Linked DNA regions of Homo sapiens: region 1 is linked to region 2. Evidence: fine-mapped expression QTL. A gene starts in region 2. The other region holds a variant in brackets. All regions are shown on one strand. Distances are from middle to middle.

The links. PIP is the estimated chance that this variant, and not a neighbour inherited with it, causes the effect. A credible set is the group of variants that fine-mapping cannot tell apart.
Region 1: its variant is the best candidate, but not a certain one, in a credible set for the expression of EXOC1-AS1 in monocytes after R848 (Quach 2016, PIP 0.79).

The regions. Positions count from the first base shown.
Region 1 is chr4:55,968,330-55,971,242 of GRCh38, forward strand. CEP135 (centrosomal protein 135) reads left to right here. Exons shown (of 26, transcript NM_025009.5): 9 at 734-799. LOC124900705 (a long non-coding RNA gene) reads right to left here. Exons shown (of 3, transcript XR_007058124.1): 2 at 2,444-2,551. Among named protein-coding and RNA genes, the nearest start is that of CEP135, 21 kb to the left of the region's middle. The variant TA/T (reference allele first, on the strand shown) is at 1,099.
Region 2 is chr4:55,946,591-55,949,503 of GRCh38, forward strand. It overlaps EXOC1-AS1 (EXOC1 antisense RNA 1), which reads right to left and starts at 1,422. Exons shown (of 5, transcript XR_941069.4): 1 at 1,250-1,422. It overlaps CEP135 (centrosomal protein 135), which reads left to right and starts at 2,355. Exons shown (of 26, transcript NM_025009.5): 1 at 2,355-2,469. RefSeq lists enhancers at 1,164-1,313, 1,932-2,896 and silencers at 2,111-2,250, 2,301-2,760.

The DNA of each region.
Region 1 (2,913 bases), 22 kb after region 2:
ATACAACTCAAATTCAGCGCATTCCCTATCAAAATCCCAGTGGTGTTTTTTTTTTTTTTTTGCAAAAATAGAAGAAACTTCTAAAATGCATATGGAATCTCCAAGGACCCCAGACCACCAACACAATCTTGAAAAAGGATATAATGAGTACAGTTTTAATTCTGTTTTTGTGGTTTTAGTTTCATTACAACACTCCTATATCTCATCCCTCTCTTTTTCCACCACCTTTTGCATCTTCTATCCTTGTGCACACAGCATGCTAAACACAGCTTCCCATGTCCCATTGCAAATGCTCAGAAATGACAAGTTGGCTCAACAAAATGTTCCTATTGGGTCATAATATTTTGATCTTGGCATTCTGTTCTCTCAGTTGCAGTATAGAGAGGATCCAGGTTGGTAAAAGCAGGTATGGAGAAAGCAAATAGGATAGGAAAATCAGGAAATGACAGTGCCATAGAATTACCCCAAAATTTAAGGCCCAAGGAAGATCCTACAAGATGCTCAAGTGGCCTTCTTCAGATGTTACAAGTAGGCTCCTGTAAACATTCGGGATACCAAAAGATTAAAGAGAAGCCTCAATTTTGCCTCTTCGTTGAAATTGATAGGGATAAAGCCTCAGATCTCACTGGTAAGAGGGAACGTGAAGTAATTGCAAAATTACTTGATCTATTTGCATATGACTTAAGTATTCTTAGACTTTTAAGTATATACCTAATAGGCTTTTTATTCCTAGAAAGAGATTAAAAGAAAGCTCTCTGAAATGCAGGATCTTGAAGAAACAATGGCAAAACTTCAGCTGGTAAGTTGATGTCATGTTGAATTGCCAGCATTTTCAGTAAGAAAATTTTTATGGGAGACTGAGGTGGGTTTATCACCTGAGGTCAGGAGTTCGAGACCATCCAGCCACATCAACATGGCGAAACCCCGTCTCTACTAAAAATACAAAAATTAGCTGGGAGTGGTGGCGCATGCCTGTAATCCCTGCTACTTGGGAGGCTGAGGCAGGAGAATTGCTTGAACCTGGGAGGCAGAGGTTGCAGTGAGCCGAGGTCACACCATTGCACTCCAGCCTGGGCAACAAGAGCGAAACTCCATCTT[TA/T]AAAAAAAAAAAAAAAAAAAGAAAAGAAAATTTGTATGCTTTGTTTTATTGCTCAGCTCCTGACAACCACTAATCTACTTTCTGTTTCTGTAGATTTATCTATTCTGGCCATTCCATATAAAGGGAATCATATATTTTGTGTCTGGATTCTTTTACTAAGCATAATATTTACAAGGTTCATGCATGTGGTAGCATTTATGAGTACTTCATTCCTTCTTATGGCTGAGTAATATTCCACTGCATGGACATGCAAGTTTATATTTTTATAATTCCTTAATTTTATGTATAGTAGGTAGCTGCTAGAAATTTTACATTCTTTTAACTACTTTATGATTTGTTAGTTGACTAATATTAAAACCAGGAGTTAATTACTTGAAATATTTGTTGATTAACTTGAAATATTTGTTGATTATTACAAAAGGCACTCCATCCTCTTTTATTTATTTATTTATTTATTTTTTGGAGACAGGGGCTTGCCTTGTCACCTAGACTGGAGTGTAATGGCATGATCATAGCTCCCTGCAGCCTTGAACCCCTGGTGCTCAAGTGATCCTCCCACCTCAGCCTTCTGTGTGGTTAAGACTGCAGGCATGTGCCACCGTGCCTAGCTTTTTTTTTTTTTTAGTAGAAATGAGGTCTTACTATGTTACCCAGGATGGTCTCAAACTCCTGGACTCAAGTGATTCTCCCGCCCCGGCCTCCTAAAGTGCTAGGACTACAGGCATGAGCCACTGTGCCCAGCCCAGTCCTCTTTTAATAGCTTTGTTTGGTAATACAAACCATTTTCCTAGTCACATTTCTTGTTCTGGTAGTCTTCAAATAACAAAGGAAGTAATCATCCCAACAGAAGCCTAAATGTAGCATACAGAAAAAGCATATAGTCCTATAGTCTGCAACTAGCAGAAAGAGTGTCTTGCTTATAAGGTAGAAACTGGGTAGTCACCCAAATGATTGAGGATTTTAAAAAAATAACCTGTTGAATTGGAAGAGTTTTCTCTAAGATTGGAAATAAAGGTAAATACTAATTTCCAAGTTCTTTCATTATGTATACTTTTTATACAGTCTAGCTGCAGTGTCCTGGTGGCATAAGTCAATTAAAAAGGAAGCATGAGAGCAAGGGATTTTTGCTGTTTGTTCACTGCTAGTTGTATGTGCACTAAATGTTGGATGTGATTCATAATACTTGTCTCAGAACTGTGACCAAGTTTTAGTAGTGTTGGCTTACAGTAAGATGTTGCCGTAGTTACTTTCTTACCTTTCTTATTTTTTCTAGTAATGCAAAATTCTATGTATTTTTGAGATAAGAATGATAATATTGATAGCTAACATTTTTTAAGTACTTACCGTGGTGGACATGTTGGATACCATGGAAAGTACTTCATAACCATAGATTCATCCTCGCCAGTAAATCCTTAGTGTCCTGGTCTTATTATCCTTGTTGTGCATATGAGGCTGAGAGAATAACCAGTATAGTTATAGATACACTGTGTGTGGTGATCTTAGAAGAATTTATCTTACTACTGCTCTCTTAAACATGAAAAAGCTTTAAATTTTTTAATCATATAAGTATATATTCATTTAGAAAAAAATAAGACAATATGCTAAACTAACTAGAAGAAAATAATTCTCCCACCCTCAAAGAAGCATTGTTGATATTTGTGTTTTCAGCCACAAATGATAATTAAGTTTAATTGAAACCTTATATTTGACTAATTAAGTATATGTACACACACGTATATGTAAATTGCTGTTATATAAATGTGCTTATAAAAATCTATCTTAAGTGCGATAATATTTTATAAAGTTGTTAGAAA
Region 2 (2,913 bases):
GCCCTAATCTTCAGGCTGATGCTAATCCTTGGGCTCCCCACAGTCAGTTACCTGTTGTCCTGGCCCTTTGGGTTGGGGGGAGATCTCTAATTGGTCAAAACATGATATCCCAACACAAATGAAGAAAAGAAAAAAAAAATAAAACAAGCAGCAAGGCTGGGCACGGTGGCTGGCTGGGCATGGTGGCTCATGCCTGTAATACCAGGACTTCGGGAGGCCGAGGTGGGCGGATCACCTGAGGTCAGGAGTTCGAGACCACCCTGGCCAACATGGTGAAACTCTGTCTCTACTAAAAATACAAAAATTAGCCGGGCATGGTGGTGGGTGCCTGTAATCCCAGCTACTCAGGAGGCTGAGGCAGGAGAATTGCTTGATCCCGGGAGGTGAAGGTTGCAGTGAGCCGAGATCATGCCACTGCACTCCAGCCTGGGTGACAGAGCAAGACTCCATCTCAAAACAAAAACAAAAACAAAAACAAAAACAAAAACAAAAAAACAAGCAGCAAATAATGTAATAATTATAGCCACACAAACATGCACCTCACTGTTGCAGGGATTGATCTTGTACCCCGTGGGACCCATCTGTTCCATTCCCCAATCAGGTTATCCTGTCACGTTGAGGCAGGAATTTAAAGAAAGTTTTGTACTGCATTTACTCACTCTAAGGATAGTAACAAGCAAGGCTATAGGAAGGTCATGGTGACCTAGTCTAAGAAGCCAGGAATGAGCTCCAAACACCCCTGAGCAATGGTTAAGAAAAACAAATTCCTTTACTGTTTCTCTTTCCTTAGACCATTAATTATGATTATTTTTGCCTATGTTTAGAAAGATTTGTAGGTTCCTGTTTTTCTTTTGACGCAGCTGCAAGGCCACCAGCTAAGCAAAGCCAAAAGTTATGCAAATTTCAGCAGTTATGCTATAGATTACAAAACCTGTCACTGTGTGATTTACTGCCTTGGTTCTGCTTTTTTAATTTAGCCTATATAAGCCAAGCTCTGTCTTTGTTCAGGGCTCAGCTTTTTGGATGCAAATCCACGGAGCCAGTGCACACCTTAATAAAATCCTCCTGCTCCACCCATTGGTCTTTCTGGTCCTCTGCTTTCCCGCAACAATGGGAGTCTTCAAGCGGCCAGTGCCTTTTTCGTTCTTAACTGCCCAATCCGTGCCAGCAGAAGGCAGCTTTAAACCAAAGTGAAAGAGCTGAAGCAAAAAAGAAAGAAAATAAAAAGTCCCAGTTCTTCTGGGCTTACCTCCTGGCTGGCTCACCAAAATATGTTACCAGATTGGAAGTTGGGAGTTCCAGGTTCTTGGTGTTATGAACAAAGAATTGGATGAGACACACAAATAACCACCCCACAAGATTTATTAAGCAAAGAATATACCAGAGAGAGGAACGGGCTTATCTTCAAGTGGTGTCAGCCCTGGATTAATATAGCCTTTGTTCTTTTATACCCACTTCCTACACTTCTTTAACTCTAGGGAGGGGATTTCCTATAATTGTCATATCTGTTTTCTTGTTTTTTCTCTCTTAGTGCGCCTGCGTGAGCTTGCCATAATTTTAAGTGTATGTATGATAGGCATTCCATAGGTATGAGCTGGTCAGTCTTCTGACTTCCTTCCCTATTCTGCTGCCTCAGAAGGCCTATTTGGGAGAAAAGTAAACAGGAAAGAATGAAACTCCCTCTGACTGTCTGGGAAATTTTCAGGGGAGAAATGGAATTCTAGGATTTTACTATGTGTTTTCCATCTGTGAGTGGACTATAACGGTTTATTTCAATTTAATTCCACTCACAAATGTTTTGCTGAGTAGAATAGTCTCTGACTCAAGGAATTCACATTTGGGGGCGGCAGAGAGAGACGGATCAACAAATGATTGTATTTTGATGGATGAATTCTATGGTTCTACAGAGAGCCTGCGGGAGATACTATTGTGGGATAATTAATTGCATTGGGTGGTTGTCAGGGAAAGTTGCAGAGACAACGTGATATCTGCGTTTGGGGATTACGTGGTGAGCAGGCGTTCACCTTGCAGGTGAAGGCTACTCCGCTGCAGGGACCGGTACTGGGGCGGCGTTTGTTCCCCGCACGCAGTAGGTGATCCACACCTCCCGCCGACAGGAGGAAGAGGATGCCAGCTCAGGCACCAGCTGAGGTTTGGCATTTGCTGGCCGCGGGCGCCGACCTCCAGGGGGCGCCGTGGCCTCGCGCTGTCCGGGCCGTTGCATTTCCGGGCACTGGGGCTCCGCCATCGTCGCCAAGCGCGTCCCCGCCGCGAGCCGCTAATCGTCCGCCGCTCCCGTTACCGGGGCAACCGCGGCGCCTCCTCCGTGTCGGCCCCGATCGTCCCTCCGCGCCATTTTCAAACTGCTCTAGCGCCGGAGCCCGTGCCTGGACGGAAGGAGCTAGTGGGGGACTCGAGGCCTGAGGGCAATGCGGCTGGAGGCGGAGGCAACGGCGGCTGGAGCTGCCGGTGAGTCCGGATGTGGGAGCCAGAGGGCCAGCTGCGGCGGTGGTGGCGCCTTCGCCTTCTGGGCGGTACCCGCGGGCCGGGCTCGGGCACTGCCGGGAGGCCGCGCGGCCGCGGGAGGAAGTGAGGCCAGGCCGGGTCAGACCGGGCGGGGAGGGGCGCGGGGACTCTTCCCACCCACCCCGCTCCCACACCCCCTTCCCGTCAACACCCGACGGTAAAGTTGCAAACCGGAGATTGGGTGGAGGAGAGCTTGGGCCGACTCGTCAAGGAGCGTCTGTGTGGGCCGTGCAGACAGGCTTGCTGTTGACCAATGGATAGATTTAAACATTAAAATGCCTTCTCAGTGTAGCAGTCATCCATGCTCTTTGTAACAAAAATGTCGCAAAGCGTAGGACGACAGCCTTTAATTAACCTTTGCCCAGCTCCTTTGAAGCCTCTCCACTG